2 separate regions of the Homo sapiens genome follow, and region 1 is linked to region 2. The links come from fine-mapping of genetic effects on gene expression. A gene starts in region 2. The other region holds a variant in brackets. All regions are shown on one strand. Distances are from middle to middle.

Evidence for each region. PIP is the estimated chance that this variant, and not a neighbour inherited with it, causes the effect.
Region 1: its variant is fine-mapped to the expression of GOLGA7B in atrial appendage (GTEx, PIP 0.94). The same link has a PIP of 0.9 or more in left ventricle.

Annotation. Positions count from the first base shown.
Region 1 is chr10:97,813,933-97,830,064 of GRCh38, forward strand. LOC107984260 (a long non-coding RNA gene) reads left to right here and starts at 7,965. Exons shown (of 3, transcript XR_001747563.2): 1 at 7,965-8,756. It overlaps GOLGA7B-DT (GOLGA7B divergent transcript), which reads right to left. Exons shown (of 3, transcript NR_108035.1): 2 at 15,662-15,789; 3 at 14,546-14,702. The variant G/A (reference allele first, on the strand shown) is at 7,171.
Region 2 is chr10:97,841,869-97,858,000 of GRCh38, forward strand. GOLGA7B (golgin A7 family member B) reads left to right here and starts at 7,975. Exons shown (of 5, transcript NM_001010917.3): 1 at 7,975-8,447. The coding sequence starts at 8,436. GOLGA7B-DT (GOLGA7B divergent transcript) reads right to left here and starts at 7,930. Exons shown (of 3, transcript NR_108035.1): 1 at 7,798-7,930. RefSeq lists an enhancer at 1-648.

The DNA.
Region 1 (16,132 bases), 28 kb before region 2:
CTAGTAATTGGCCATTTTTATAGACAGTTCCGCGCATTCGCATTGCTTTCGAATGCAGGGTGGCCTAGGAGGGGCACGCTTTCTTCTGCAGGTAGAAGGAAGGGCACAGACTTGGGAGCCCAGGTTTGAGTCCTAGCACTGACAGTGTGACCTGGGGCAAGTCCTTGAACTTCCCTGGGCCTCTATTTATGTCCCTCTGAATAGGAGACATGATTTGCTGCTTCAGGGTTGCTGTGAGGATGCTCTGTGGCTTTATGGGAGAAGGCTGGAGGACTCTAAATGTGGTGTTACCTCCTGCCTTCAAGGCTTCTACTGTGAGCAGATTTTCAGTTATGTATTTGCAGTTGAACTTGGCCACCCGCTGGCTGGCTCACTTTGTTAGAAATCAGGACCGTGGCTTATTTGGGAGCAAGGTTCTTATACCTCATTGGCTTTTGTGCCTCTCTTTAAACTTCCCCAAGGAGCAGGTAAGGAGGTCTCCAGCTTCTTGGGTTTGTAGGTATATGTGGGGAGCTTTTCTCTTCCTTTTGTCCATTGCTATTTTCTTTTCTTTTATTATTGAGGTAAAATTTACATACAGTAAAGTCTACAAATTCTTTTTTTTTTTTTCAGATGGAGTCTCTCTCTGTCACCTAGGCTGAAGTGCAGTGGTGCAATCTTAGCTCACTGCAACCTCCGCCTCCCAGGTTCAAGAAATTCTCCTGCCTCAGCCTCCCGAGTAGCAGGGATTACAGGCATGCGCCACCATGCCTGGCTAATTTCTGTATTTTTAGTAGAGATGGGGTTTCACCGTGTTGGCCAGGCTGGTCTCAAACTCCTGACCTCAAATGATCCACCCACCTCAGCCTCCCAAAGTGCTGGGATTACAGACATGAGCCACTGTGTCCGGCCAAGTCCACCAATCTTTACATGTGCTGTACAGTTGATGTATTTTTTCTATATTTGTACATCAGTGCAAGCACCGCTCTAATCAGGATATGGATGGTTTCCATCACTCCAGAGGGTTCCCCATGCCCCCACCCGCTTCCCCCATCAACCCAGCTTGTGCTCACATGCAGCAGCTGCCATTGAACTTCACATGGGGCGGGTATTATATACCATGTGCTTTACATTGTTCCCTTAGGACTTTCACGTCTTTTTCTGATCAGTTTTAAGCAGCCTCTCAGCCCTTCTTCTGATGGGCTGGGCTCCTCCCTCCTGGCACATCACTGGTGACTGTCTACTGTCATCTCCTGAGGTGGCAGAAGCCTCAGATGTACCTCCCTTGGCAGGGTGTGTCCTGGGATATTCCTGCGGGCACCGAGACCAGGCCTTTGCTCCCAGGGGCGGCTCTGTGGCTTTGCTGGCTCTTGCATTGCAGGGCTTGGAGGAGCTGGGAATGGGCTGGGGATGGGGTGCCCTGGGCAAAGGTTTCTGAGAAGTGGCCTGAAGTCAGGCCAAGCTGGGGGGCTTTAGAGAAGGAGTGGATAAAGCTACAGACCCAAGAGAGGTCTGCACAATGGGGGGTGCTCACAGAACACCCACAATGTTAGAAGTGGCAGTTAAGTGTGGGGTGGTGAATTAGGCATTAGCTTGGCCCTCTACTGAGAATGACGGAGGACAGACCCCACCCCTGCTGACAAGGCTGACCTTAGGTGTGGTATGGTGGGAAGTCGCCCTTCCCTACAAAAATATCCCTTTCGCCTGCCTGCCAACACCATGTGTTCACTCACTTGTTCATGTCAGGGGTATTTCCTGGGACCCCGGGGATGCAGGCAGGCAATGTGCTAACGCCAACTGTGTGAGGATGCCCACAGGCAGGGCCTCTCATCCCGCGGGCCCACTTCCTAGACAGGCTGCTAACGGGTGGCCCACAGGCCAGATTGGGACCTTGGATGTGCTGGCTTTGGCTCCCATAGTTTAAAAACCTGGAAATTGCCTATAAAAACTAGATTCCTGACTTCTCCTGACAAATCAGGAGATCTGGCAACCCCAGCCTGCTACACAGCAGCAGGTAGGAGTGGGCACGGCACGCTTTCTCCAGTTTGCTACAGTACCTACCATCCCTCTGGCCTCATACCTGCTGGCCTAGGTATGTACATTTCTGCTACTACAGAAATGTAGATATCTCTGCTAATTTGAATGGATGGGAAGAGTTGGTGAAGGCCTCACAGGAGAGGCAGTGAGGCTTGGTCACCGGTTGGAGGGTGCCTGTCCAAACCTACTCAGGCTCTTCCTCTTGAGGGTGATGCTCTTCTCGGCAGATGCTCTCTGGAGAGGATGATAGTGTGGGGGAGGGGGAATGGGCAGGAGAGCAAGATGCTGAGATATTATCCCACCAAGGCCCAGGGTAGTGGTTCTCAAAGTATGGACTACCTGGATTAGGATCACCTGGGGGTGTTGGTTCAAAATGCAGCCCCACTGCAGCAGAGCCTGGAGGGAAGGTCCCCAGGTGATGCCCTGCTCACTCAAGTATGAGAAAAGGAGGCCGGGGCTTAGCAGGCCATGGGTCTGACACAAACTGTGTTTTCTAGGGCAAGACTGGGGACCCAACTCCTCCTTCTAGTCCCCTGATGGAGTCTTGTTTTGGACACCCTGCTTCCAGGCACAGCTGGGGCCCCCACCAAGCTGAGGGCATGAGAATCATCTTCTCCAGCCTTCTGGCTCCTGCACCTGGAGGAAAGGTCATGCTTGGCCTTGCCAAGTCTTTTCATTTTCCAGAATCTTTGAACTGCCACCCAGGCAGTGGGCCAGCTGTGAGAAATGGGATGGTGGCTGGCTGGCTGGTAAGGGACACCTTGTCTCCTCTTCCCTTTGATGGGTGTGCTTGCCTCTCAGCCAGGTGGCCTGACAGTTGCTGGGCTCTGGCCAGGGGGCTGGAATCATGGCCCTTTGTAGGTAAGGAGGGGCAGGGGTAGGGAGGCACCCTCGTGGTGGCCAGGGCGTACGTAAGGAGGCGCTTATGCTCAGGTTCTTGAAGTGGCCCAGCAAGAGAGCATTTCCTTAATAATGAGGTTCCTGGGGAGCAAAATATGGGAGGCCCTCATTCTCAGGGTGGTGAAGGGCCCACTCCCCACCCACTCCTGCCAGAACTTGAGAATGCGGGCTCCCTAAATGTCCCACTCTCCCAAACTTGTCTGGTCCTGCATCCTGGTTACTGCACTCAGGGAGCCCGAGGGATGTGCTGGGATTGCAGGTGAAGGAGAGGGTGGGGCAGGCAGAGCATTCAGGACCTCTCACACCAGACCATGGCTTCTCAACCCCAGCTGCACACAGGAAGCCCCCGGGAAGCTTTAACATTTCCTGATGCCAGGACCCCATCCCCAGAGATTTGGATTTAATGAATCTGGGGTGCAGCTGGTGTTGGGATTTTTAAAACTCCCCAGGGGATTCTAATGGGCAGCAAACTTTGAAAACCTCTGATCTGGATGGAGCAGGGAGGGTGTTGTTTATGGGTTTTCCTTCCATCTGTTTTAGTTGGAAGCAACAGACCGACAAGCAGGACACAGACTTCTAAGGGTAATGCTGTTTTTTTTTTTCTTTGAGATGGTGTCTCACTCATTCCGATTGTACAGTGGCATAGTCTTGGCTCACTGCAACCTCCGTCTCCCAGGTTCAAGTGTTTCTCCTGCCTCAGCCTCTCGAGTAGCTGGGATTACAGGTGCTCACCACCACGCCTGGCTAATTTTTGTATTTTTAGTAGAGACGGGTTTTCACCATGTTGGCCAGGCTGGTCTCGAACTCCTGAGCTCAGGTGATCTGCCCGCCTTGACCCCCCAAAATGCTGGGATAACAGGAGTGAGCCACCGTGCCCGGCCTGGGTAACACTTTTGCTGGTAACACCAATAGCTGAATGCTGTTGTCAACATTCAACAAGGTGAATGGACTATGAGGAGGACGGAAAGAAGCCTAAGATTCAAGCTCCCAATCTGTGCCACATGCATCATGTTTGCCACTTAACGGTCAGTCCTGGGAGTTTACAGATGAGGAGCTTGAGTCTTGGCCAGGCTAAGGACTTTGCCTGCGCCTCACAGCTGTGGAATTGTAGAGCCTTAAATGAAATTGATGTGTGACAAGGTGCTGGTAGGAATGAAAGTCCTTCCTGTTGCTTTCAGATTGATTTTCTAAATAAAGTATTTCTGGGGTCAGCTGGTGGAGGAGAGGGCTTGGGAAAGAACTGGGCCCCGACTCCTCTCTGCCTGCAAGATAGAGGGTGGGGAGGAGCTGAAGGCTATTTTAGGCCCCGTCCCCCATCAGATTCTGTCGGAATCTGGCCTCAGCCAGCTGCCTCAAGTGATTTTAAGGAAAAATACCTCTCCCTCTGCTTAAAGACAAATAGATCCCTGAACGTAAAGTGAGTTGACTAGTGTGATAAAAACGGGCCTCCTCCTTGCCTCCAAATTCTCTCACACACACACACACACACACACACACACACACACACACGTATGCACACATACACACACTCAGAGTTACCGCAATTCCACCACCTAGGTGATTAGATTGAGCCAGAAAATACTCATGGGAGGGTAAGTGGGGAGACAATTCCATCTGTTACAGCATATTATAGGTTACAGAGTACTTTTATAGGGGGCTGATCCTACATTCTCAGCAGACCTATGCATCCTGCTAGACAGCAAACACCGTGGGGAATATGCCACAGAGGCTTCTGTAGATGCAAAGAGAGAGCATTTAAGGTGAGGCTTGGAAGATGCTGAAAGTTGCTCTTTAATGGGTAACTTTATGCAAAAGAATTGTCCCACTGGCTTCCAAAGCAGTAACAATGCTGTGAGCAGCTTTTTGCTGTGGTGACAAAAGTTCACTTTCTCCTACTGAGAGTGGTTTCTGCATTCTCAGTTGGTTCATGCAGGAGCAGTGGGCCAGGGAAGAGAGCACCAGGGCTGGTTGGATTCCTGCCTGTCCACTTATGGGCTCCCTCACCTTGGGTGAGGGGATTAGCCTCTGAGTCCTGGTTTCCTCCTATGCATGTTGGGGGCTTCTGCTTCTGGCCAAGACAGGGTAGCAGGGACTGGATTTATACTCCTGCCTGAAACAATTTTTAAAAAACAGACAGAACATATGAAATAATGGTTTTCAAGACACTAGACATTAGGCTACAAGATTCAGGGGTCCCACAGAGCTCTATGGTTGTCTCTGCTTACTACCTGGAGAGTGTTTTCGGCCACAACCCAGAGAGGGGGAACTCGGGCCAGGTGGGGAGAAATGGAAGTAAATTCTGTAAATGTAAGGTTCTTATACTCGATGTGAAGTGGCACAACATCACTTGAAGGTAAATTGTGAAAAGGTCAAGATGTGTACTATAAACACTAAAGCAACTGCTAAAATAGCAGAGTTACAGCTGCTAAGCCAATAAAGAAGATAAAATGGAATAATCAAAAATAGTCCAAAAGAAGGCAGAAAAGGGGAAAAAAATAGATGGAACAAATAGAAAACAACCTGGGGCTATGCCAGGTTCCCCTGCCTCTCCTCCTTGGAGTCAGGAGGTCCCAGCCCTGCCTCCAAGCCACACTGAACCTTGGTTTTCTCATCTGAAGAATGGGATAGCAGTTCTGACCTCTCAGGGATATCCGAGGGTTCCTCGGGAGTGTGGTGCCTGGTGCAGGATGGCTGCTTTCCCTCTTCTGTCTGCCTGGCCCAGCTCCTGCCTCTGCGCTCCTCTCCCCTCTCTTACTTGGGGGTACTTTTCTCCCTTGGACTGCCCCTGCCTCTCCAAGGCCTTCTGGGAGCCAAGTGGCTTGGCCCTGCCAGTGGGCAGGTTGAAGATTTTTCCTTCAAGACCCTCGAAGGCCAGGTGGTCAGGGGTTGGGGGGCATGAAAGTTGAGTGAGACTAAGCTTTTTGCTTTTGTTTTTGTTTTTATTATTTTTAATGTTTCATTGTGGTTTTTTTTGTTTGTTTGTTTGTTTTTTTTTTTTTTTTTAGATAAAATTCACATAACATACAAGGAACCGTGTTAAAGTGTACAATTCAGTCTGGGTGTGGTGGTCCACACCTCTAATCCCAGCACTTTGGGAGGCCAAGGTGGGAGGATCACTTGAGTCTAGGAGTTTGAAACTAGCCTGGGCAACGTGGTGAAACCCTGTCTCTACAAAAAGTAGAAGAATTAGCTGGGTGTGGTGGTGTGGGAGCTGGGGGTGGGAGGCTGAGATGGGAGGATGGCTTGAGCCTGGGAGGCAGAGGTTGCAGTGAGCCGAGATCACCCCACTGCACTCTGGTCTGGGCAACAGAGTGAGACCCTGTCTCAATAAATAAATAAATAAATAAATAAAAATTATACAATTCAGTGGCATTTAGTATATTCCCAATGTTGTACAACCACCAGTTTCAAAACCACTAGTTTCAAAATTTTTCGTCACTCCAGAAAAACACCCTGTGCCCATTAAGTAATCACTCCTCATTCTCTCCCTCCCCCCAGCCTCTGGTAACCACTCATCTGCTTTCTCCCTTTATGGATTTACCTATTGTGTTCATTTCATTTCAAAGGAATCATAGACTCTGTGGCCTTTTATGTCTGGCTTCCTTCCCTTGGCGTAATGTTTTAAGTTTCATCCATGTTATAGCAAGTGTCAGCACTTTATTTCTTTTTAATAGCTGAGTAATATTCTATTGCATGTACATAACACGATTTGTTTATCCATTCAGCCGTTGATGGACATTGAGTTGTTTCTACCTTTCGGTTACTGTGGATAGTGCTGTGATGAACATTTGTGAACAAGGGGAGTCCCTGTTTTCAGTCATTTCGAGCATATCCAAATGCGTGGAGTTGGTGGGTCATACGGAAATTCTGTTTACCTTTTGCAGAAACTGCCAAACTGCTCTCCACAGTGGCTGTACCTCCTTTTAGTTTTCATATTATATTATTCTAAGTGCAAAGATAAGACAACGCCATAGAAAATTTGGAAATTATGCCTTGAGCAATTTTTTTAAAAAAGTTTTCATTTTAAAAAATCATAAAGTTTATATAAATCCATGCTTATTGTAACAATTCAAAGACATTTCTAGCAGAAAAAAGTCTATCTGCTCCTCCATCACTTTCCCCCTAGCTGATAAATGTTGACCCTTTAGTAAGTATCTTTCCAGACATTTTCCAGGCATTGATAGAGTTTTGGGATTTTTCTTTTTACATGAACTTGTCATACTATCCATATTATTTGCTTTGAAATCTTTCTAT[G/A]CATTTCTTGTGAATTTCAAGTTGGAAAGACTGTCCCAGAGCCAGGCGGGTGGTCCCTGGAGGAGAGACCCTCAGATCTGTGACCTGTCCTTGCTCTGTTAAAAAAAGTTTGGAAGTCTGGGCCACAGGTATGGACAAAGTTGTCCTTGAGTGGATGGATAAAGAATGTATTATAATTTTCTTTTTGTTATCTGCATATATAAATTCTTTGTAAAATGAGTATGAATTGCTTTTATAATAAGAAAAAAAAGTGGGGAAGAATTGAGGGCCTGCAGTCTTGGTGCCCAGCTTGTACCTTAATTTAGCACTAACTTCATTCCTTCTCATTGCATAATGAGTTGTTTATGTGTTTGCCTCCCTTGAGGGAGGACAGGCTTATTCATCTCCTTGCCCTCCCGACTCCTTCCCTGCTCAGGTCTGAGCCCCATGCCAGGCACACAGCAGGATTGCTGAACCAGCAAGTAGCCCCTGCAGGGTTGTGGTGGAGGCTGCAGAGGAGAGGGTGGGTCCCAAAGACCCCCATATGCCCTCAGCTCAGGCTCCCAAAGGAGAGTGCATAGCCGGGGGAGTCCAGGCCCCCAGGACCAGGCTCCCAGTGGTCACACTCTCTGCAGGGGCACTGGGCCCAGCCTCTGTGGGAAGCTGGGTGTGAGCGCAGGTGCAGTTATTCATGGCAGCCCTGGCCAGAGTACCCATGGCAGGCGGCATCCAGCTGAGGAGTTAATTAGAGCACTGCCAGGAGCAGGAAAGGGGGGCAGGAGGCTTGGAGGCTTGGGCTCCCTTTCCATAGAGATAGAAATAGCTGGGCTCCTGGCGGAGGCGGAGAGCAGTACACACAGGAATGGAGGTGCGAGCAGCCAGCGCCTGGGGCACAGGGTGGGGGTTGTCTTCTTGGGCTTGTCCCGTCATTCTTGTTTGGGAGGGGGAAGGGGAAGGGGCATGTGGTCTGTGGCCCGGAGGGGGCCTGTCCGAGGCCCTTCTTCTCCTTCCTGGGGCCTCCCCATCTGTCTCCCAAGCCTGGCCTGCCCGGGCTCACGGGGGGCATCACAACAGCCCCAGAGCCCTGGCCTCACCTTCCTGCCTCTAGCTTTCCATGAGAAGCAGGCTATGAAGGGGTGGGGTGGGGTTCCAGAGCTCAGGATCATTCTAGCATTTCTAGGGGGTAGTCCCTGGTGGTGCTGGGCAGCTCCGTGCCTGACTCATCTGAAAACACTTTATAAATAACCTGGCAGAGGGACGTGGGCTGTCCACCCCCGTACCCGCCACACTCTGTGAGCAGGTGGCAGCACCGAGGTCCTGAGGGCTTTTGAGATGTCCAGGGCAGGGTTCTGGTCAGAAGCCAGGCCCAGGGGGATGCCGGGAGGGAGTGTTGTCCACCTCTGGTGAATGGCGCTGCGGGGGTTCTGGGCACCATGGAGTCCTCCTCTCAGCTGTGATGTTGTCAGCGCCACAACCTTCGATGGGAGCATTGGGGATTTCTGGCTGGGCAAACTGAGCCACTATGGACTAAAGTTGCTGGGAAACCTGGGATGAGTCACTTCCCTTCTCTGGGAACCCTCATTGGTAAAATGAAAAGGTTGAACTAGGTGAGTACTAAGGTATATTTTTTATTCTCCTTGGTGGGTACAGGTTGGTGTTCCTAAATTAGATACCACAAATATTTACTGAACCCTCATGTCCCTGCACTGTGCTAGGCAGCTCTATGCAATTATTAAAAAAAAATTTTTTTTATTTAGAGATAGTCTTGCTCTGTTGCCAAGGCTGCAGTGCAGTGGTGCGATCTTGGCTCACTGCAGCCTCAACCTCCCAGGCTCAAGCAATCCTTTCATCCCAGCCCCCTGAGTAGCTGGGACTACAGGCGCACACCATTACAGCCGTCTAATTTTAAAAGTTTTTGTAGAGATGTGGTCTCCCTGTGTTGCCTAGGCTGGTCTCAAACTCCTGGCTTCAAGAAATTCTCCCTCCTCAGCCTCCCAAAGTGCTGGGATTATAAATAGGTGAGAGCCACTGCACCTGGCCTTTTTTCTTTTCTTTTTTTCTTGAGACAGAGTCTTGCTCTGTTGCCCAGGCTGGAGTGCAGTGGCACGATCTCAGCTCACTGCCACCTCTGCCTCCCGGGTTCAAGTGATTCTCCTGCCTCAGCCTCTCAAGTAGCTGGCATTACAGTCGCACGCCACCACGTCTGGCTAATTTTTGTATTTTTTTTTTGTTTTAGTAAAAATAGGGCTTTGCCACGTTGGCCATGCAGGTCTCGAATTCCTGACCTCAAGTGATGTACCCACCTCGGCCTCCCAAAGTGCTGGGATTACAGGCATGAGCCACCATGCCCGGCCTCAAATATTTTTTAATAAGGCTCATTTGCTGCTAGTTAGTGCATTGGGTAGGGGCCCATGCCGGTCAGGCCACATCAGGGTCTCAGGCCAGGGCAACAGCTGTATACGTGTCAGTCGTCTGAAGGATTAGCAAGGGAGTGTGGCCACGGCTCAGGCAAAGGCAGAAAACACCTGACACCGAGAGGGAAGGGCACGGTGGGCTCTGATGCTTGTCTGAATTTCCCTCAGCAGCCCCATTCACCAGATGGGCCCTGGGACTCGCTCAAGGTCCCATAGCTGGAAGTGATGGGGGCCCTGGGAGGACCCAGGTGTTCTGATTTCAAGCCCGGTTTCTTGGGAGGAATGCTCATTGTTTCTATATTCTCTATTTGGAAATATCTCAAGTAGACACGATGGCACCAGGAGCAAGAGGCCACTGGGCAGAGAAGGCAGGGTCCTGCGTGTTCCTGATCAGGCCTGCTCTGGTCTCAGGCTGGGGAGGACACTGTGTCCTGGTGCTCGGCGGTGTCTGGCACAGATGGGCGTGTGTGGGTGGGGCAGGAGGAGGAGCAGTTACCCGCAAATGGAGCCTGCGTGCTGGACACGGAGAGTCTCTCCCTTGTCAGGCCTAAGGGGACACCAGGAGCCCCCCGGGCAGGAACAGTATCTGGGCGGCCAGCGGTTGGACACAGGGCTGCAATAGGGTCTGATTTTGTTCCTGAGGAAGAAGAGACATTTGACTGGTCAGCCACAGAGGGCAGACGAGGATTCTGGACGCAGATTTCAGCGTGGCACAGCCTGTGTACTCACTGCTGGGGCACTGCCACCTGTGAGGTGATGAGCTCCCAGTCCCCCGATGAGTGGTCTTCTGTGAGGGTGTGGAGGAGGGGACTCCATGAGGGAAGGGCTGGATTAGGCTGGTGGTCCCCAACATGGCAGCACATCAGAATCCCTGGAGGAGTTTGCTTATGGTACAGATCCCCGAGTCGCCCCCCGAGCCCCCACTAGATAGGACTCCCCAGGGATGAGCTGCACAACCTCCACGTCAGGCCTTCAGAGGCTGGGGCTCCATTTATCCCAGCCTCCCTTACCCACCCCTGAGATACGCTGTTGAGGTTTCAAGCACAGTGCAGCTGCACATGTAGTAGCAGTCCATAGACAGAGAACAAACGGCAACCTCAGGAGACTGCGGATTCAGAGCTTAGTCAGTGGATTTGGTGGCTGCACACAGCTTGGACAATGGCTTCCCTGCAGGCCACTCAAGAGACTGATGTCAGGTGTCATGCCTTTGGGGATTAAGATGCTGAAAGGGTTTTGATATCTTTCAAGGGAAACAGAGCTACAGGGCCTTCAACAAGCTGCTTTGCTCCTGCGGTCAGTCCAGTTCAACAGTAGTCTCTGGCTGGGTGCGGTGGCTCACGCCTGTAATCCCAACACTTTGGGAGGCCGAGGCTGGAGGATTGCTTGAGGCCAGGAGTTCAAGACCAGCCTGGCCAACATGGCAAAACCCCATCTCTACTAAAAATACAAAAATTAGCAGGTGTGGTGGTGCACACTCGTAATCCCAGCTACATGGGTGGCTGAGGAACGAGAATTGCTTGAACCCAAGAGGCGGAGGTTGCAGTGAGCCGAGATTGTGCCACTGCATTCCAGCCTGCGTGACAGAGCCAGAGTCCATCTGGAGAAAAAAGAAACAAAAAACAAAAAACAAACGTGGCCCCTGATGAGGGGGAGCCTGGTGCAGTAGGAAGAGTGCGGCCAGGGGCAAGTCCAAAGCCTCCTCCTGTCTCGCTGTGTGACTTTGAGCTAGTGTCTTACCCCCTCTGGGCCTCTCATTTGTAAAGTGAGGGCGTTGCACCTTCAAATCCTCCCTGACCTGGCATGTTACAATACCTTGAGTGACCAGGATCTGGGGTGTTTGCCTAGTGACTGGCATCAAATGTTGTTCTGACCTGTTCCTTGCTGTGGCATCTCCCCTCCTTAGTTACTTGTTTCCCACTGTCTGCTGGAAGTGTGGCTGTCCTGGCTAATCAGGCAGGAAGGCCTGGTAGCAATGGAGGCAGGGCAGTTGGTGGGCGGGAAGGAGTGAGCACGTGGACCTTCCAGGCAGTGGGGCCGGCCAGGGGCAGGGTTCCAGGTCCCAGGGCAGGGGAAACTGCCAGGAAACTATAGGCCCTGCCTCAGAGAGAGGACTGGGGCCAGAAGTGGGGGATTCTGGCTTAGTACACTAGCCCTTGAGGCCCATGAGGCCTCCCAAGAGCACGGTGGACAAGTGTAATGTATAGGATACTCCTGGGGTTAGGGACGGGACAGGCAAGGAGACATTAATGCCACATCTTGAGGGCACATTCAGGGCCAGGCATTGCATTTGTACAATTTCCAGATTTCACAAAACTCATGGGAGTGGATATCACTTGCCTCATTTATAGACAAAGATAGGAAGGCCCATGTTAAATGATTTGCTCATGGCCACACAGCCAGTGAGAGGCAGAACGGGATGTGAACTCAGGTCTGGCTGATTCTAAAATGCACAGGGCTCCCTCTGCATCGTGCACCTCCTCCTCTGTTACAAGCATCGTTCTTCTGAAGCTCAATGGCACCCATCAGCTCAAGGCTCTGCGTGTATCTGTCCAAGGTCAGGGGTACGTGCACAGAAATGGACATGCATGAAGGAAGTGTGACTCAGAATTAAATTGCAACAGAGAAATTTAAAATCACCTAGGCCAACAGAGTGTCAGCAGGATTTGAGCCTGAGACCTGTCAGGTTGCAAAACTGATTGCTGGGGAAACTGAGGTTGATGAGCTCCAGCCCCCGGCCATGCGCTCACATGGTATGTGGGAGGCCAGCTGCGCAGTAGTTGCAATGCCTCATATTTCTGGGGAGGTGGCCATGAGCTGCTGTGCTGGAGGCAATCAGGGAGGGGTCCCCCAAAGGGGCAAAGTTTGAGTTGTCTCTCAAAAGATGGGTTGAAATTCACATGCCAGTTAGGTATGGGAGAAAAGAGTTCTAGGCAGCTGGAACAGCATATGAAAAAAATCAGAGGCCTGGAAGGATGCGTGGAGTTGGGGAAACTGGGAGTAGCTCCCTGGGGTGGGAGGCTGGGTGCAGGTGAGAAGGGAGGTGTGGGAGACGAGGCTGGGCAGAGGAGCCAGAGCGTGGGCTGGATTATGGAGGGCGTGTATCTGTGTGACCTTCTGACTTTGGCCAAGCCTCAGTTTCCTCAGCTATAAAATGGGAGAAATAAGGCCGTCTGTCTGTACAGGTTGTTGTGAGATGTAAACTAGACAGTAACAGTGAAGTGGGTGGCAGTGAGCCTGGTGCAGGGGCAGTAACTGGCTGTTGCTGCTATAGTTGGTGATGGTGATGGTGATGGTGATGGTGATGGTGATAATAATAACTGGGTTTCCCAGTTTTCTTTCATCTGTTCTCAACACAGTAGCAAGAGTAGTTCTGTTAAGACATATGGCAGATAATATCCTTCCTTTGCTTACAAGCCTCCAGGGACTCCCCTTTCATGCAAGGGAAAAGCCACAATCCTTGTGACAGTCTTCAGGCCCTGCCTGACTTGATTTGCCCCTTAGCATACTCCCTGTGTTCCCATGCTGCTCCCTTCCTGTCACTCTGCTCTAGCTGCTGGCCTCTTCACCATGCCTGGAACTTGCCAGAGTACTCCTGCCTCAGGGCCTTTGCACTTGCTGCTCCTGCACCTGGAATGCTCCTCCCCAGGTGTCCGTATGGCTTGCCCTATCTAGCCTCCTTCAGGTCTTCAATCACATGTCACTTTTTTTTTTTTCAGACAAGGTCCTGTTCTGTCACCCAGGCTGGAGTGCAATGGTGCAATAATGGCTCACTGTAGCCTCAACCTCCTGGGTTCAAGCAATCCTCCTGGGTTGGCTTCTTGAGTAGCTGGGACCACAGGTATGCGCCACCATGCCCAGCTAGTCTTTTAAAATTTTTTGTAGACATAGAGTCTCACCATGTTGCCTAGGCTGGTTTCAAACTCCTGGGCTCAAGCAATCCTCCTGCCTTGTCCCCCAGAAATGTTGGGATTACAGGCGTGAGCTACCATGCCCAGCCACGTCACCTCTTTAGTGAGGTCTTTGGTTGTGCTGCCTAAAATTGCAAACTGCCCCCTGGCCCTTGCCAGCACCCTGCCCCCCCTCCCCATCTTTCCTCCCTCTTCTATATCCCTTCTAAGTGTTGATCACCTTCTAGTTTATTATGTATTTGTGTTGCATTGCTTGTTACTCCCGTTAGAACATAATGAGAGCAGGGCCCTTTGCCTGTCTTTTGCCCCACGGTATCTCCAGCGTCTAGCTCAGAATTGGTGCTCAGCAATATGTTATTATTTTTTATATGATCTCTGGAGGATAGGTTGGGCCAGCCCCCCCCGCTGGTGTGGCTGGGCCATGACCAGGATCCTCTAAGCTTGCTGTGCTTCTTAGGAAAGGCGTTTCCTGCATCCCTCCCGTCTCTTCCACAGGAGCCCCGGAGCTGCAGGATTCCTGCTGACAGCCTCTCCCACCTGCAGTCATCCCACTGATTTCAAAATGCAGCCCCTCTGCTGGCTCTGGGCTCCCTCCCTGCCAGAAGCTCAGTGAGCATCGCGGGAGGATGGCTGGCAGCCTGTGTGCCATCTCATTCCGGAGGAATTTCCCCAGTTCCCAAAGCAGTCCAGTGCCTGGGGGCCCTGGAGCCTGGGTGGCCTGATTTAGATCCTGGGAGCAGGGCCCCAGCTGCAGTCTTCCCTAGCCAGCCGAAACTCCTTCTGCCAGAGAGGCCTTCTCTCTAAAAGCTCTCTGGCCTTGTGCATTTCTGCCCCAGGGAGCTGTTCTTTCTAGATCACTGGGCTGCACCCAAGTATTGGAGTAAGGTACCGCAGTCACTCAGTCACTCTGCTGTACCAAGCTCCTCTTTCTTTAGGCACACCTCCTGGAGCACCTGCAGGTGTCTCTCAGACCCCCTCCCCTCCCAATAGTCCCAGCCTCATCCCCTGTCAAACCTTGTTGGCCCATGTCCCACTTGCTTATAGCCTGGCCTGTTGGAGTGACTGACAGTCCGATACCTTCTCCATTTATTGTGTCCCTCTGGGACCTTCAGGAGACAACAGTGCTTTCATTCAGAGGAGTGGCAAATGGAATTGCAGGCTGGCAGTGGTGGGATTTTGGAATAGGCTGGGCTCCAGTCTCTGGATTCCCACTAGAGGAGTGGAGACTCCTCTGAAAAGAGGACAAGATCAGGTATCAGATAGACTGGAGTTGGAATCCTGACTTTCCTACTTGGATGTGTCCTCTTGGGGAAGTTCCTTGCCCATCTGTAGAAGGGGTGTAGCAGAGGTACCACTCCTCCCAGGATGGCTGGGGGGACTAAGTGAAATGATGGATATGAGGCCCTTGGCTTGGGGCCTGGCACAGAGTAAGGGTAAACAAATGCGAGTGGTTTCCTGCTGCACCAGGATGTGGGTCAGGTCTTCTCCCTGCTGAGTGCTGAGCCATCAATGGTACCCAGCTATCCCAGGGCTATCTGAAGCAATGCAGGAGCCAGCTGGTCCCCTAGAACCTGCCCTGGGCACAGGCGAAGCCTCCTCCTCCTGGGATCCAGCATCTCTCTGGCTGTGGCTCTCCATGCAGAACCTGTTTCTCCCACCTTGCTCTTTCTGTCTGGGCAGTCAGGGCTGATGAAGCTGGCCACCCTGGAGCCATAGGGAAGTCTCTGCCTGTTGTGTTTGGTAGATCCTCTGGCACTCAGTGACTTCAATTTCACAGACCTCTCGAGGATCCTGATTTCCTGCTCTCTTGTTTGTAAAATGACTCAAATGAGGGACAGAAACCCAGACACACATGAACAGCTAGAACGCAGGAGAATTTGCAAATCTCAGGGTGTCAGGCCTGGGAGAGCCCTGAGGGTCATGAGGCCCACCTGCCTCTGTCAATGATGGAGAGCCCGAGGTCCAGAGAGGGCCTGTTACCTGTCACAGGTCACACAGCTTGTAAAGGACTGAGCTAGGGTTCAAACCTGGATTTCCTGACTCCCCATCCATTGCTGTCTCCACTGCACCCCACCAGCCTGAACAGTGTGCTGGGGACCCCACAGGGAACCCCACTTTCATTTCCTGCCTCCATGTCTTGTCCCACATCCCCATACCGGATCAGGTAGAAAGTCACAGGGAGCAACTCACGTGGGGATTGGTGAGGATCAGGATGGTCTCTAATTCCAAATGGGCCGGTTACAAGAACTTGCTGACTGCCTCCTCTCCACGCCTCTGTCCGTGCTCTTTCTGTAGTCTGGACTGCTCTCCTCCCAACTCTGCTGGTCAAAATAGCCTTCTCACACCTCCCAGGTCCCATACCTACCAGCTCCCACACCTCCCGGATCCCACCTCTCCCAGGTCCCACACCTCCCGGATCCCACACCTCCCAGGTCCCACACCTCCTGGATCCCACACCTCCCGGATCCCACACCTCCCGGATCCCACACCTCCCAGGTCCCACACCTCCCGGATCCCACACCTCCCGTGTCCCACCCCTCCCAGGTCCCACACCTCCTAGATCCCACCCCTCCCAGGTCCCACCCCTCCCAGGTCCCACACCTCCCAAGAAGCTTTGTGCAGAAAAGGAAGGACTGTACACTGTTCCTTTGTTCCCCATAT
Region 2 (16,132 bases):
CAGCCGCCCCGTCCGGGAGGTGAGGGGCGCCTCTGCCCGGCCGCCCCTACTGGGAAGTGAGGAGCCCCTCTGCCCGGCCGCCACCCCGTCTGGGAGGTGTGCCCAGTAGCTCATTGAGAACGGGCCATGATGGCAATGGCGGTTTTGTGGAATAGAAAAGGGGGAAAGGTGGGGAAAAGATTGAGAAATCGGATGGTTGCTGTGTCTGTGTAGAAAGAAGTAGACATGGGAGACTTTTCATTTTGTTCTGTACTAAGAAAAATTCTTCTGCCTTGGGATCCTGTTGATCTATGACCTTACCCCCAACCCTGTGCTCTCTGAAACATGTGCTGTGTCCACTCAGGGTTAAATGGATTAAGGGCGGTGCAAGATGTGCTTTGTTTAACAGATGCTTGAAGGCAGCATGCTCGTTAAGAGTCATCACCACTCCCTAATCTCAAGTACCCAGGGACACAAACACTCTGCCTAGGAAAACCAGAGACCTTTGTTCAGTTGTTTATCTGCTGACCTTCCCTCTACTATTGTCCTATGACCCTGCCAAATCCCCCTCTGCGAGAAACACCCAAGAATGATCAATTAAAAAAAAAAATAAATAAATAAAATAAAATTAAGCCAAATTGCAATCTAAAACTAACTTTTTTTAAAAAAATGTTTTAATGGGAACAGAAATGTTAAAACTCACAGTAGAACAGAATTTTAAAAATAGTAATTTTAACAATAAATTTGTTTTCATAACCATAAAAAAAAAAGAAAGCCTCTAATATTTGGATGAATTCTATCTGGGAAGGGAGAATTATTGCCACCATTTTACAGATCAGAAATCAGAGGCTCAGAGAGATTGAGACTTGCTAATGATTACATAGTAAATAGGAGAGCCAGAGGTTGAAACCTATGTCATCTGACTCCAGGGATGCCGTTTCCTACCACATACTTCCTAGTAGTCTCCGCAATGTGCCATGAGATGACATTGTTTAAGGCTTTCCAGACCACAATTTCCCCCTCAAGCATTCATGCAATTGTTTTCCATCCAGACCCAAGTGCTGAGAATTTCCTCGTCTCCCCTGCTTTTTCTTCATCTCCCTGAGGTTTGCTAGCTCTTTCCCTGGCTTCTCTGCCGTCTGCAAGAGTTCGTTTTTCTCTCATCTCTTTCCAGCTATTATGATTTCCAAATCTTTCAGTTGGTTTCTTTTTCCGGCTGTGGTCCTTTATGGGGAGGCTTTCCAATGCAGCCGCAGATTGGAGGATGATAACACTGAATGTTAGTGGATCTTCTTTGATGTTATTTTGTGGGTGAACTCATTAATTTATGATAAAAAACATCAAAGAGCTAGGCTCTTGCATAGGACTAGGTTGTCCCAAGGCAGCTGGATAATAATGATTAGTCAGATTAAATCTCAAAGAGCTCTCTGCCTCAAATATAGGAGTTAAAGTCCAGATGACTGCATTTGGGAACATCCCATCCTCTAGCATCTCATCACAGCCTTGAGTCAGCCCAACATGGAATGCTGCCCACTCTGAATGTGGGTCTCTCTCTGTGGCTTCCACTTTGAGGCCTCTAAGACTTGAGGTCTGTTGAGATTGTTACAACCCTGGAGGCAATGTAGGGGAAATAGGGTGAGGCTGTGAAAGCCTCTTTCCCACCAGAGGAGCTAGATATTAAAAGGGATCATTTGTCCTTGCATGAGTGATCTCAAAGCTCTCTATAGACTCTAGTCCTGTGACGTCAATGGGGAGAACTCTCTCTGGGCTAAGTGCCAGCTCCATGCTTGGCACGGAGCAAGCTTTCTATAGGTACTGGCTGAATGATGGACCAAGCTTTCTAGAGGTAATGGTTGAATGATGTGTGAAAAGCCGTTGGCTAGTTGAAGGGGAGCAGGAGTGGAGCTCAGGTTTTTCTTTATGTGACAAAACCTCCTAACCAGCTCCCATCTGTGGCCATTTACTGTGTTTTTTTTTATTGTTATACTTTAAGTTTTAGGGTACATGTGCACAATGTGCAGGTTAGTGACATATGTATACATGTGACATGCTGGTGCGCTGTACCCACTAACTCGTCATCTAGCATTAGGTATATCTCCCAATGCTATCCCTCCCCCCTCCCCCCACCCCACAACAATCCCCAGAGTGTGATGTTCCCCTTCCTGTGTTCATGTGTTCTCATTGTTCAATTCCCACCTATGAGTGAGAATATGCGGTGTTTGGTTTTTTGTTCTTGTGATAGTTTACTGAGAATGATAATTTCCAATTTCATCCATGTCCCTACAAAGGACATGAACTCATCATTTTTTATGGCTGCATAGTATTCCATGGTGTATATGTGCCACATTTTCTTAATCCAGTCCACTGTGTTTCTTTCGCCTCTGTGGGAAATTGTCTGTGCTCCTCTCCTGAGCCATCCCCTCTCTGTTTGCCCTGTGTCCCATTCTCTGCTGGCCTGTTAAGGGCTTGCTCCTGCAATTAACCCTCTCTTTTCTGAATCATCAGTGTTTCCCTCTCTACTAGATGATTCCTGTCAGCAGACAAACATGCCCTAATGTCTTCCCTCTTGAAAGGAAACTCCCTTGCTTCCATGTCTCTCTCAGACCCCCATGCTAGTCTTTGCTTCCCTTTGCAGGAGAAAGAATTGTCTACACTCTCAGTACCTCTCCTCTCTCTCCTCCATGCTAACTCTCAAACCCACTTTAATCAGGATCTTATCCCTGCACCACTAAAATGGCTCTTGTCAAGGTCACTGGCGAACCTTCTTGCTGCCAAGTCCAGTAGTCATTCCTCAGTCCTCATCTTATTCCACCTGTGAGCAGCATTCAACATGGCAGGCAAGGCTCTCTTTCCAGCCTTCTTTGCTTGGCTCCAGGACACCGCCCTCTCTTGAATCTCCTCCTACTTCACTGGCCCCTCTTCTCAGTCTTTTGTCTTCCAGCCTGTCAGTGACCAAGTGTCCTGAATCAGTTCTTGGACAGCTTTTCTAGCTATGCCTACTCGCTCGATGATGTCTCTAGTCCCATGGTTTTAAATGCTATCCACATACTGAAGGGTCCTGAAGTTATATCTCCAACTCCTCATCCTCCCTTATAATTTGCTTATAACATGCACATCAAACTTCAAACCTAAGTGAACAAAACACAACCAAAATGCTGTGTTCTCTATCCCTTCAGGCCTGCTCAGTCCCTAGTCTTCCCCTCTCAGTAGATGGCCACTCCTTTCTTCTGATGGCTCAGATCTCAAGACTTAGACTCATCTTTGACGATCTCTTATTTATTTATTTATTTTGAGACAGAGTCTTTCTCTGTCCAGGCTGGAGTGTAGTGGCACAATCTCGGCTCACTGCAACCTCCACGTCCTGGGTTCAAGTGATTCTCCTCCCTCAGTCTCCTGAGTAGCTGGGTCTACAGGTGTGTGCCACCATGCCTGGCTAATTTTTGTATTTTTAGTAGAGTCAGGGTTTTGCCATGTTGGTCAGGCTGGTCTTGAACACCTGATCTCATCTCAAGTGATCCACCTGCCTTGGCCTCCCGAAGTGCTGGGATTACAGACATGAGCCACCATGCCCGGCCTGCCTTCTTTATACCACACATCCAATCCATCAGAAGATCCTCTCAGCATTACTTTCAAATTATATCTAGAATCTAGCCACTTTTTCCCACCTCTACTGCTACTACCAAATTCTAAGCCACCACCACATCTTCTAAGCCTGGGCTGCTCTAACAGTCTCCTAATTGGTTTTGCAGCTTCTAGCCTTGCCTCCCCTCTGACATCCAGTGGAATCTTTCAAAAACTGCAATTAGATGATGTCACACCCCTACGCTAAACCTTCTTAGGCTTGCCATCTTACTTTATGAGTAGAATCTGAAGTCTTTATCAGGGCCTACAAAACCCTGGAAGACCTGATTCCTGCTACCTCTCTGAGCTCAACTCCCAACTCTCTTCCCCTTGTTCACCTCAGGTCTAGCTACACTGGTCTTCCAGCTATTCTTTGTTTTTATTATTATTATTTTTGGGGACGGAGTCTCACACTGTCACCCAGGATGGAGTGCAGTGGTGTAATCTCGGCTCACTGCAACCTCCGCCTACCAGGTTCAAGTGATTTTCCAGCTTCACCCTCCCAAGTAGCTGGGATTACAGGCAGCCACCACCATACCTGGCTAATTTTTGTATTTTTAGTAGAGATGGGCTTTTGCCATGTTGGCCAGTCTGTTCTTGAACTCCTGTCCTCAAGTGATCCACCTGCCTTGGACTCCCAAAGTGCTGGGATATAGGTGTGAGCCACTGCGCCCAGCCTCCTGCTATTCTTTGAACATACCAAGCCCAGTCCTGCGTCAGGGCCCTTGGATTCTGTCCTCTCTGCCTTGTCACTCTTCCTCCAGGTATCTATATGTCTAGTTCTCTCTCTTCCTTCAGGGCTCTACCCAAATTTCACCTTATCAAAAAAAGTATTCCCTGACTATTCTTTCGAAAATAAGCCCTCTCTATCACTATCTCCTTACCATATCTTCTTCCTAGCAGTGATCACACTTTTCTTCCTAGCAGTGATCAAAACTTGACATATTTTACACATATTTGCTTATGTCATGGATTGTTACCCCCATTACTATATAAGTTCAATAAGGACAGAGGCTTTGCATTTTTAGTCACGACTGTATCCCAATTTCCTAGAAGAGTGCCTGATACACAGTAGGTGTTCAACAAATAGATGTTGATGAATGGATTTGTTGAATGGCCTCATCCAGATATCTAGTCATCAGGTGAAGAGAATGGTTTCCAGAAGGTTGTCTAATTGATGTGATAAAAATCAAGTGGGAGGAACTGTGAAATTTACATGGAGATCATCAGATTATGTGTTCTTTTATTACCAGTGACCACTGCAGGATTCATAGATATTCTGTTTGGTCCTTTATGCCAAATCCTATGCCAAACTATAAGGTAGAATGAGACACCCGCCTTTAACTTCTTTAGCATGTCACTTACACTCTGGGACTCAGCGTTTTCATCTGCAAAATAGGCAGCTGGAGATGTGGTCATTGCTCTGCTAGTCTATGGTCTACCAGATGCTGGAGGGAGGCAATACAGTTAGGAGGATCAACCACACAGGCTCTGGAGCTTGACTGCCCATGTCTGAATCCTGTCTCCATTCCCCACAAACCCTATGACCTTGGGCAACTTACTCAGTTCCCTCATTTATAAAGTGGGAATAATAAAAAGATCACAAGAACACAACTCAAAGAGTAATTGTGAGGATTACGTAAGATCATACATGTAAAGTGTGTAGCATATGGGCTGGCACATGGTAAGTGCTCACTAAATGTTAGCTACTAAAAATGAAAAGTTCTGGGAAAATTTTTGAGGGGTCATCGCTATTAATGTGTTTTAGGGGTGACAAACTGTTCTAGAATATTAGATAATATGGGCATTTTAAAAGCATGATAATTGGCTGGGTGCGGTGGCTCATGCCTGTAATCCTGGCATTTTGGGAGACTGAGGTGGGCGGATCACCTGAGCTCAGGAGTTTGAGACCAGCCTGGCCAACATGGTGAAACCCTGTCTCTACTTAAAATACAAAAATTAGCTGGGTATGGTGGTGCGTGCCTGTAATCCCAGCTACTTGGGAGGCTGAAAATCACTTGAACCCAGGAGGCAGAGGTTGTAGTGAGCTGAGATGGTGCCACTGCATTCCAGCCTGGGTGATAGAGCAAGACCCTATCTCAATAAAATAAAATAAAATAAAGCATGAGAATGGTGTTGTGCCTAGTTGGGATAACGCTTTTCTTCTTGGGAGATGCATGGTGAATTGAAGTACTTACAGATAAAATCTCATTGAAGTACTTACAGATAAAACCTCACGATGTCTGTCACCTTATTATTATTATTATTATTATTATTTTTGAGACGGAGTCTCGCTCTGTCACCCAGGCTGGAGTGCAGTGGCGCAATCTCGGCTCACTGCAAGCTCTGCCTCCTGGGTTCATGCCATTCTCCTGCCTCAGCCTCCCCAGTAGCTGGGGAGTAGCTCCCCAGGTGCCCACCACCACGCCCGGCTAATTTTTCTGTATTTTTTAGTGGAGACGGGGTTTCACCGTATTAGCCAGGATGGTCTCAATCTCCTGACCTCATGATCCGCCCACCTCGGCCTCCCAAAGTACTGGGATTACAGGCGTGAGCCACCGCGCCCGGCCACGATATCTGTCACCTTCTGATAATCTAGGCAAATATAGCTCTGTTTTCATATCTATCAATAAAGCAAATGTGGCAAAAAGCAATTGTTGGAGCTAGGTAGATGGCATAGTTTATTGTACTATTCTTTCAACATTTTGGTATGTTTAAAAATGTCAAAATAAAAGGTTGGAGAAAAAACAAAAGGTCCTAGAAACAGTCTAGTGAAATCCAACACTCACATTTTACAGAAAGAGAACCATAAGCTCAGAAAACAAGACAGTTGCTCGAGGTTATACAGCTGGAAAAGCCTGGGCCAGGTCTCTTGGCCGCCAGGTTCTCCCTGTGTGTGGGCTTCAGACTCTCAGGCAGCAGTGAGCTGCAGAGGAGCACACCCCACCACCCCTCAAAGAGACCAAGGGGTATTATGGGTATGTAAAAAGGCACTTGTGTTGGTGTTTCCTTTTTTTTATGTCTATTTTATTTATTTATTTATTTATTTATTTTTTGAGACAGAGTTTCGCTCTTGTCGCCCAGGCTGGAGTGCAATGGTGTGATCTCAGTTCACTGTAACCTTTGCCTCCCGGGTTCAAGCAATTCTCCTGCTTCAGCCTCCTGAGTACCTGGGACTACAGGCGGGTGCCACCATGCCTGGCTAATTTTTTTTTGTATTTTTGGTGGAGATGGGGTTTCAGCATGTTGGCCAGGCTGGTCTTGAACTTCTGCCCTCAGGTGATCCACCCGTCTCGGCCTCCCAAAGTGCTGGGATTACAGGTATGAGCCACTGCTTCCGGCCTTATTTTTATTTTTTTAAGAGACAGGCTCTTGCTCTATTGCCCAGGCTGGAGTACAGTGGCACAATCATGGCTAGCTGCAGCCTTGAACTCTTGGATTCAAGTGATTCTCCTGCCTTAGCCTTCTGAGTAGCTGGGACCACAGGCACACATCACAACGCCCGGCTAATGTTTTCATTTTTTGTGCAGACAGGGTCTTGCCCAGGCTGGTCTTGAACTCCTGGGCTCAAGCAATCCTCCCACCTCAGCCTCCCAAAGTGTTGGGATTACAGGTGTGAGCCACTGCACCTGGTCTCCTTTTTATTAAACAAATAGATCATTTAGTTGGAATTTATGATGTCAAAAGTGCGAAGGTGGCACCAGAGCCAGACCTGCCATCCTTGGAGAGTGAGCATACCGGTTTGGCACCATCTGCTTGTGGTTTTTGAGTGGTGGTGGTAGTGGTGGTGCGTGTATGTAAACTCGGGTTGCAGAGGAGAGAGGGAAGAGTAAAGGGTGGGGACCAGGTCCAGGAAGAGCAGCAAGGAGAGACTGGCTTCAATTCTGGAGCTGCCTGAAAGAAGGGACCCCAGGCTATGGCTGAGAACGAAATGTGGGCACGTATTTAAAGAAAGGAAATGATTCTCTGCGGTCGGCAGGATCTTTGTCTAGCTAGTGGGGTTCCAGGAAGTGCAAAGGAGAGGGGAAAAGAGGGGCCGTCCGTGCAAGCCTGACTGTGTGTATATGGGGGGGGGGCACACAGAGAGGAAAAGGGAGAGAAAGAAAAGAAATTATTCTAAAGAGGAAGCTGGGGGCGGGGCGAGGGAGGGGTAGAGCCGGGGCACTGGGGGTGGCTGGAAAGGTAGAGAGGCCTCACCTGCGGGCCTGCGAGCGGCTCGGGAGCGGTCAGCCTTGCAGGCTGAAGCGTCTTGCCCCGGAAAAATTCCTGCCCCACTGTCCTTCAGGCTGGATGTCCCGGGGGCCACGGAAGCGAGCGCAGAGCTCCGGGGCTCTCACGAGGGGGAGGGCAGGAAGGGGAGGCGGGGCCTCGCGCGGGGCGGTAGCCGAGCCTGTGGCCCGGGCGGGGCTCCTCTCCGGCGGCGCCGGAGTCTGGGGGCCGCGGCTTCCCCCTCCCGGCCAGCGGCGGCTCCTGGCCCCTCCTCCCCCGGCCGCCCCCATCCCCGCCGCCGCCGCCGCCAAAGCTAAACCCGGCCGTTGCCTGCAGGAGCCGCGGCAGCGGGCGATCGGGCCGTGAGGAGCCTCGGGCGCGGCCTCGCCTCCCGGGCCCGGCGCCTGCCTCAGCACAGCGGACAGCGCCGCGCCCCTTGCCTGGACCCAGCCGCCCGCCCGCCCCCGGCCCACCTGAGCCCGGGCCCGCGGCGCCCGCATCAGCACTGCGGACAGCGCCCCGGGCCCCAGCTCGCCGCCACCGCCGCCGCCCACCTGCTCCCGGGGTCAGCACCGCGGAGACCCCCCTCGCCCGGCCCCGCGACAGCCTCCGAGCGCCCCCGGATCATGGCCACCGAGGTAGGGGCGAGCGCCCCACCCGCAGGCAGTGCCCGATTGCCGCGGGACCAAATGCCCTAGGGGTGGGCTGGGCAGGAGTGGGAGGCGGGAGTTGGGGGTGGGATGGGGTGATTCCCCAGGTCAGGTCTGGAGGGAGGAGGTAGGGGCTTAGTGAGGGCTCATCTCCCCCTTGCGTGTCAATCTTCCCCTCGCCCCACCTGAGCCCCCAAGCTGTCCGCGACACTTGTTGGCATTAGCGCCAGGGTTGCTTCAGGGCCCCAGGCTGGGGTTTCCCCTTCCCTGGACTTCACAAGTCCTGAAACCGCTTTCCTAGAGGGTTGGAGACGCGTGTGTGTGCGTGTGTGAGGGGAGGGAAGGCGGCTGTCCGCTGTTGCTATGCAGTCAGCTTCTGAACCCAAAAGCTTGGCTAAGGGATGACAGACTTACCTCTACATCCGCATTTCCTTTGCGGGAGGGAGGGGACAAAGACATCCTCAGGCTGAGAACCCAAATGGTTGGTCTCCACTTTTGCATATCACCCTTCTTGCTTTTTTACCCCATTCGAGTTTTTTTTTTTTTTTTGTCCCAGGGTGTCCAGATTTCCCCTCCATCTGATGGGAGTTTCTGCCTTCTTCAAGGTGCACTGATAGGTGTGTCACCTTCAAGCACTTGAAGGCTGAACCACGGGGCCTGTTAGCTAAGGGCAGAATCTTGGTATAATGCTTGAGGTCGAGGATTCCCCCCTCTACCCCTAGGGATTGCCCTTTCCCCCCTCATTTCAGGAGGGAGATTGGGCTCTTTATGTTCCCACTTTATACATGATAAAGGTGATGTGTGGAAAACGAAAGGACTAATTTGCTACTCCACACAGCATGTCAGCAGCAGAGCGGAAAGTTTTTGCCTTTGAATTTTTGGAGCGAAACTCAGGACATCAGGGTCTCCCCAGTTCTGATGTTGACTTCCTTTGTGGTGTCTCCCCATTTCCAATCCAGCTGGCATACACTGGGGGAGAGCAGAGGCCTGTGAATGATTCAATGCAGTGCTTCTGGGCATCCTGGTGAGCAGTGTGACATTAATACCAAGTGTGGCTGTTGTTATTCCACTCAAGTTTCCACCACAGAACAAGGTGCTGTTGCTTGGCATTGCTTGGCATTCTGACAAGGCACAAGGTTAGCTAGGCGGAGAGTTGCCCCTCAGGACTTGGTGTGAGGGCAAGCCCTGGGCAGACCCTGGGAGCTTGGTTTCTAGAGTAGAGGAATGCAGAGTACTCACAAAGCACCAAAGACATGGAGGACAGCAGGAAGAACAAAGGGAGAAACCAAGGAGTTGGTTACCTTCCAGATAGGGCTGCCAGACTGCAGCAGAGGCTGCTGTGTTGGACAGAAAAGGGGAACTTCAGCTACATGGGCATGGCTGGGCCAGCAGCGTGGGCAGAGAAGGCAGCTGCCTCTGCGATGTGATCTGACAGATTCCAACAGGCCCATCTGTCCCAGGATGTCTGCCATGGCCCACAGATTCCAACCAGCAGGCTTCTATCTCTATGTCAAGACAGCGTTTCCAGGAGGCTGCTATGAGACATGTGTGACTCTCCCCTGGGAGGGGCTCTGCTCATAACGCCTCTGAAAATATTGCGCTTTCCTGTGTACAAAGCACTATCGCATAAGTGATCTCTTTCAAGCCTCAGAGCAGCCCTATGAAGTGGGTAAGGATGGTGTTATTATGCCCAATTAACAGATGAGACAACTAAGGTTCAGAAACTTGCCTGGTCCCTGTGAAGGAGCCAAAGAAGGCATCATTATCCCATTTTACAGATGATGGAACTGAAGTGCTGAGACTTATTCAGGAAAATATGGCTAAAAGGTGGCAGGGATGGGATAAGAACTTGAGTCTTCTGCCTCTTTGGCCAGTGCTTTTTTTTCCTGCATCCAATTAGCCTATTGTGTCACCTGATAGAGAGGAGGGCCCTCCAGGTCTTGATGTGAAGCTTTGGTGGAGAGAGGGATGCAAAGGAAGTCATGAAGGGCTGGAGTGTGGGGACTCAGGCCCCCTGCTTGGCCTGGCTGGGTTGGTTTGAGGGCAGAGGGACAGAGGAAAGTCCCGGAGTGATGGGGAGCTGAGGACAAACATTCCTCACTTCACAATTTGGCCTTGGGTGGACTCTGATGGCAGAACTGAGGCAGGAAGCCTTAGCTCTGCCAGGGCACAGGACCTGCACGTATTCTGGGTTGTGGGGTGAGTCATTCTCCCAAGGCTGTTTTTACTGTTAGAATTGAGTTGAGATTACCAGGATAAACTTGTTGGGAGAGGGAAAACATCGCTTTAAGTTCCCATGATTATTCTGTTAGGATTCTCAATAGGAACTCCTCAGCTCTAGGAGAAGCTGTATTGAGAGAAGGAGAGAGGGAGAGGAAGGGGGTGGGGAGAGGGACAGAGAGGGAGGGGTGAGGGAGAGGGAAGAAATTCATGGGTGGAAACTGGGTCTTTTCTGTTCCCTAATTTCTGTTTAGGAGTTAGCATTAGGGGAGAGGTGTCTGTAAGGAACTCAGAGGAGGGATGGAGCCTCCTGAGTGATACACTGACCTCATTTGGAGAGCTGCAATGAGCCCATTTTCTGAGCAGCAAACCTCTGTGAATGTGTGTCACTGGGAGCAGGGTCTGCCCTGGGAAATAGTCCAGATGGCCAAGGACAACTGGGAAGTGCCTGGCTGGGAGGGGCTTCTCCAAGTGGTGGGGTTTGGTCTCTAAGAGATTTTTAAATGCATCCAAGTAGCGTTATTCAAGCAGGGTGTTTGGAGGTTTGATCTTTGAGGCATGGAATTAATGATGAGTAGACAACTGGGTCAGGCTTGAGCACTGGTACAGGCTGAGAAGAAGGGAGGTCTTGTGGCTGGTGTTTTATCCTTAGGCCTGACCTGGCTGTCTGTGACTCATGATCCTCACTCCTCCTTCACACCCCAGCCAGGAAGCAGAGTGCTGGCATCAGCGGAACCTCCTAATTCTCGATGCCTCACATGCATCCTATGGAATGAGATGGTTTTTAATGAGGATGAAGATGGCGCCAGGGGGGCACTCCTGTTGGACTTGGGCAGACTGGACCAGGAGCTCATTTGCACTCTAGAGCTTGTTCCTCTGCACCCCAGCTAGTTGACTGTCAGGTGAACAGGAGCCAAATGTGTGACCTGTGGTACCCACTCTCCAGGCAGACTCCCCCTCCTTCTCATACTGCAGTTTGAAAATTGGTACCCATGGGTCTCACCACTGATTTTCTTCCTTATGAAATGCTTCTCGGCCCTGTCTTCACTCTGCTGCCAGTGAGCCAGGGGTGGCAATGGGAGAGAGGGGCAGGGTTGAGGAAGGTGAGAAGTGGAGAGAGGCTCAGGTCTCTGGGTCAGTTAAGAACCCCCTGGGAGACACCCAGGGGAAACACAGAAACTGCAGCTTCAGAGAGAGTTGTGCACATATTTTGATATCCTCTGGTAGGATTTCAGAGCATCACGGATCTCTGCTGAAAACCCCACCAGCTTTCTGAAAACTTAGTAGCTGGCCAGTGGCCTGGAGCCTGGCTTAGCTCTTGCCCAAGGGGCCCCAGCCATGGGATTCTTTATTTAGAGGTCTTAAACTAGCAGCTCTAGAAATGAGTCTGGTCCATGGGTGTGCCTTACTTAGTCTGTTGAGTGCTTATACATTTTAAAAATGTATTGGAAATATTCAAAAATCAGAATATTTGATGTTAAAAAGATCTAGATTTCTGGCTTCTTTTGAGACACCAGAAGTGCTGGCAACCTGGGTATACATTCCCACGTGGCAATAGTCATCTGTCTCCTTGAGATGGGGCACCAGTTTTCTAATTAGCCCCAGGCCCCACCTGGCCCACTTATTGCTCAGCCCCTGTAAACATTTGCATTCATAATCCCTGATAAAGCCTCTAGAATGTCAGAGATGAAAGGGGCTTGAGCAATGATGTAGTTCCAGTTTCTTAGTTTCCAGTTGAAGAAATGGAGGTGCAGAGAAGGGAAGACTTTCCCAGGGCCATGTGGCCCAGGGTCAGGTCTCCTGCCCCCAGGTCAGTGGGCCATCTTTCCACTAGGGCTTCCTGGCACTTCACACTCAAGCCACCATGAATGGAGAAAACCAGGAGACCCTGCCTTGCCTTAAATCCGGCTCTTCACCAACTTCAGATGAGTCTGTAATATATGTACTCTATGTAGGTCTGGGAGACTAAGGCTCTGCCATATAAAATGTGTCTGATATCATCCTTTAGCAACTCCTCAGAGTTGCTCCTCCACAAACACTCTCCAGGGAGAGAAGCAGATCTCTGGTCACCCAGAGCCTGGATAGTAGTCTAAGGCTCAGGATATTGTTGGTGCTGAAAAGGGTGTTGACTTATCCTACTCTGGCTACTTGAGAACCTGTGGATCAAAGCCAAGAGGAAATGGGAATTTATTATGTAAGGTAGCACCCCCAAATCTTAATGTATTAATAGCTTAATACAATAGAAGTTTGTATCCTGCTCAGTGAAGTTCCAGGTAAGTGTTCCTGATCAACAGGTATTCCAGGCGGTGATTCAAGGCAGTGATTCAGTGATTCAGGGACCAAGGCTCTTCCCAACTTGTGGTGTCACTATCTTCAACACAGGGCTCCACCAGCCTCCATGAAAGGGGAAAGAGCAGGGAGAAATGGTACATCTTTATGAATCAAGCCTACACATGGCATTCGTCACTTCCTCTCACATTCTACTCAGTCATAGGGACACACCTAACTGCAAGGGAGGCTGGGAATTAATATAGCTGTATGCCTAGGAGGAAGAAGAAATGGCTTGGGTCAGTAGCTAGCCAGTCGCTAGAGACACACGCCTTCAGGACAGCACACAAATATGTGTGTACACATGTGTGCATTCAGGCACAGATTTAACACAATCCCTATCAAATTAGCAACATCGTTTTTCACAGTATTGGAAAAAACAATGCTAAAAAAAGAAAAAACAATGCTAAAGTTCACATGGAACCAAAAGAGAACCTGAATAGCCAAAGCAATCCTATGCAAAGAACAAATCCAGAGGCATCACATTGCCTGACGTCAAATTATACTACAAGGCTATAGTAACCAAAACAGCAGGTTTTGTATGGGTCAGAGGACAGGAAGCTGAGTCCATATCAGAATGGTTTCTTCCCTTTCTTTCCATTCTCACCACTGCTTTTCTCACCACCTCTTTAGTTTTTTCCATGGACTATTAGAAAGAGAATCATCCCTCCAACTGGCCCCTCACCCCAGTCTTGTCCACTTCCCACAAAACTGCTAGAATGAGCCTTCTAGGGGTAGGGGAGTCCATCCTCAAGATTGACTGACTTTCATAAGTTGGTTTTAGAGGGGCAGAGGAAGGCCATAGCCTTGTTCTTTACTCTTGAAAATACAACATTATAAAACCTTAACCAGAGCAGACATGTTAACAATTAACTTATTTATATTACCAAAGCATTCCTTATTTCTCCGAGTTATCATAGGTTCCTAGTAGATATCAAGGGGATTTCCTCAATGAAAACCTTGATTAGAGGAATCAACTCATATAAGCCTACAGGAGGGCTTATACATTATTTAATCCAGTCACAATACTTTGAGATCACATTTCGTACATACAGCAAGGTCCACCTGGATTTAGGAAAGTCACATATAGTGTTTTTGGATTCCCACCTTTTCAGGACCTTGATCTACCAATTATCTGCTCCTTCTACTTTATTGATAACCTTTCCTAGTTATTTATTATTTCCCAAGATTTTTGTTTGTTTTTAAATTTTATTTTATTTTAGATTCAGGGAGTACATGTGCATGTTTGTTACATGGGTATATTGCATATTGGTGGAGATTGGGCTTCTAGTGTACCCATCACCCAAGTAGTGAACATTGTACCCGATGGGTAATTTTTTAACCCTCACCCCCTCCCCTCTTTTGGAATCCCCAGTGTCTATTATTTTCATCTTCATATCCATGTGTACCTCTTGTTTAGCTTAGATTTATAAGTGAGAAAGTGTGTTTTGTGGTATTTGGTTTTCTGTTTCTAAGTTAGTTCACTAAGGATAATGGCCTCCAGCTCCACTCATGTTGCTGCAAAAGATATGACTTTATTATTTTGTATGGCTGTGTAGTATTCCATGGTGTATATATACCACATTTTCTTTATCCAGTCAAGTGTTGATGGTTGTTACTCTGAAGTTGGTTCTATGACTTTGCTATTGTGAATAGTGCTATGATGAACATATGAGTACAGGTGTCTTTTTAACATAATGATTTATTTTCCTTTGGGAGGATACCCTGTAGTGGGATTGCTGGGTTGAATGGTAGTTCTCTTTTTAGTTATTTAAGAAATCTTCATACTGTTTTCCATAGAGGTTGAACTAATTTACATTTCCACCCACAGAGTATAAGTGTTCCCTGTTCTCTGCATCTATGCCAGCATCTGTTGTTTTTTTAATAATAGCTATTCTGATTGGTGTAGCATGATGTCTCACTGTGGTTTTAATTTGCATTTCTCTGATGCTTATTGATGTTGATCATTTTTCATGCGTTTATTGGCAGCATGTATTTCTTCTTTTCAGAAATGTCTGTTCATGTCCTTTGCCCAGTTTTTAATGGGGTTGTTTTTTTTCTTGTTGAATTGTTTGAGTTCCTCATAGATTCTGGATATTAGTCTTCTGTCAAAGGCATAATTTGCAAATATTTTCTCCCTTTCTGTAGGTTGTCTGTATACTTTGTTGATTATTTCTTTTGCTGTGCAGAACTTTTTAGTTTAATTAAGTCCCATTTGTCTATTTTTGTTTTTGTTCCATTTGCTTTTGGGGACTTCATCATAAATTATTTGCCTAGGCCAATATCCAGAAGAGTTTTTCCTAGGTTTTCGTCTAGAATTTTTACAGTTTCATGTCTTAAATTTCAGTCTTTAATCCATGTTGAATTAATTTTTGTATATGGTGAGAACTAGGGGTCCAGTTTATTCTTTTGCACATGGTCAGCCAGTTTTCCCAGCACCATTCATTGAATAGGGAGTCCTTTCCCCATCCCATTTACAATAGCCAGACACACACACACACACACACACACACACACACACACACACACATTTAACCAAGGAAATGAAAGATCTCTATGAGGAGAACTACAAAACACTGATGAAAGAAATCGTAGATAACACAGACAAATGGAAAGACATCCCATGCTAAAGGATTGGAAGAATCAACATCATTAAAATGACCATGCGGCCCAAAGCAATCTACAGATTTAACACAATCCCTATCAAATTAGCAATATCATTTTTCACAGAATTAGAAAAAACAATGCTAAAGTTTATATGGAACCAAAAGAGAACCTGAATAGCCAAAGCAATCCTATGCAAAGAACAATCCTATGCAAAGAACAATCCTATGCAAAGAACAAATTACATTGCCTGACGTTAAATTATACTACGAGGCTATAATAACCAAAACAGCAGGTTTTGTATGGGTTACTGGTACAAAAATAGACACATAGACCAATGGAACAGAACACAGAACCCAGAAATAAAGCAACATACCTATAACCAACTGATCTTTAACACAGTCTTTCCCCGGTGTTTAAGCAAGTTTAAGTATCTGTCATCCTAAATCCTCCCCTTCAGCAGGAATCTTTCCTGCTTCTTGTGATCTGACCCTTGCCTCCTCTACAATCTCATCTCCCAC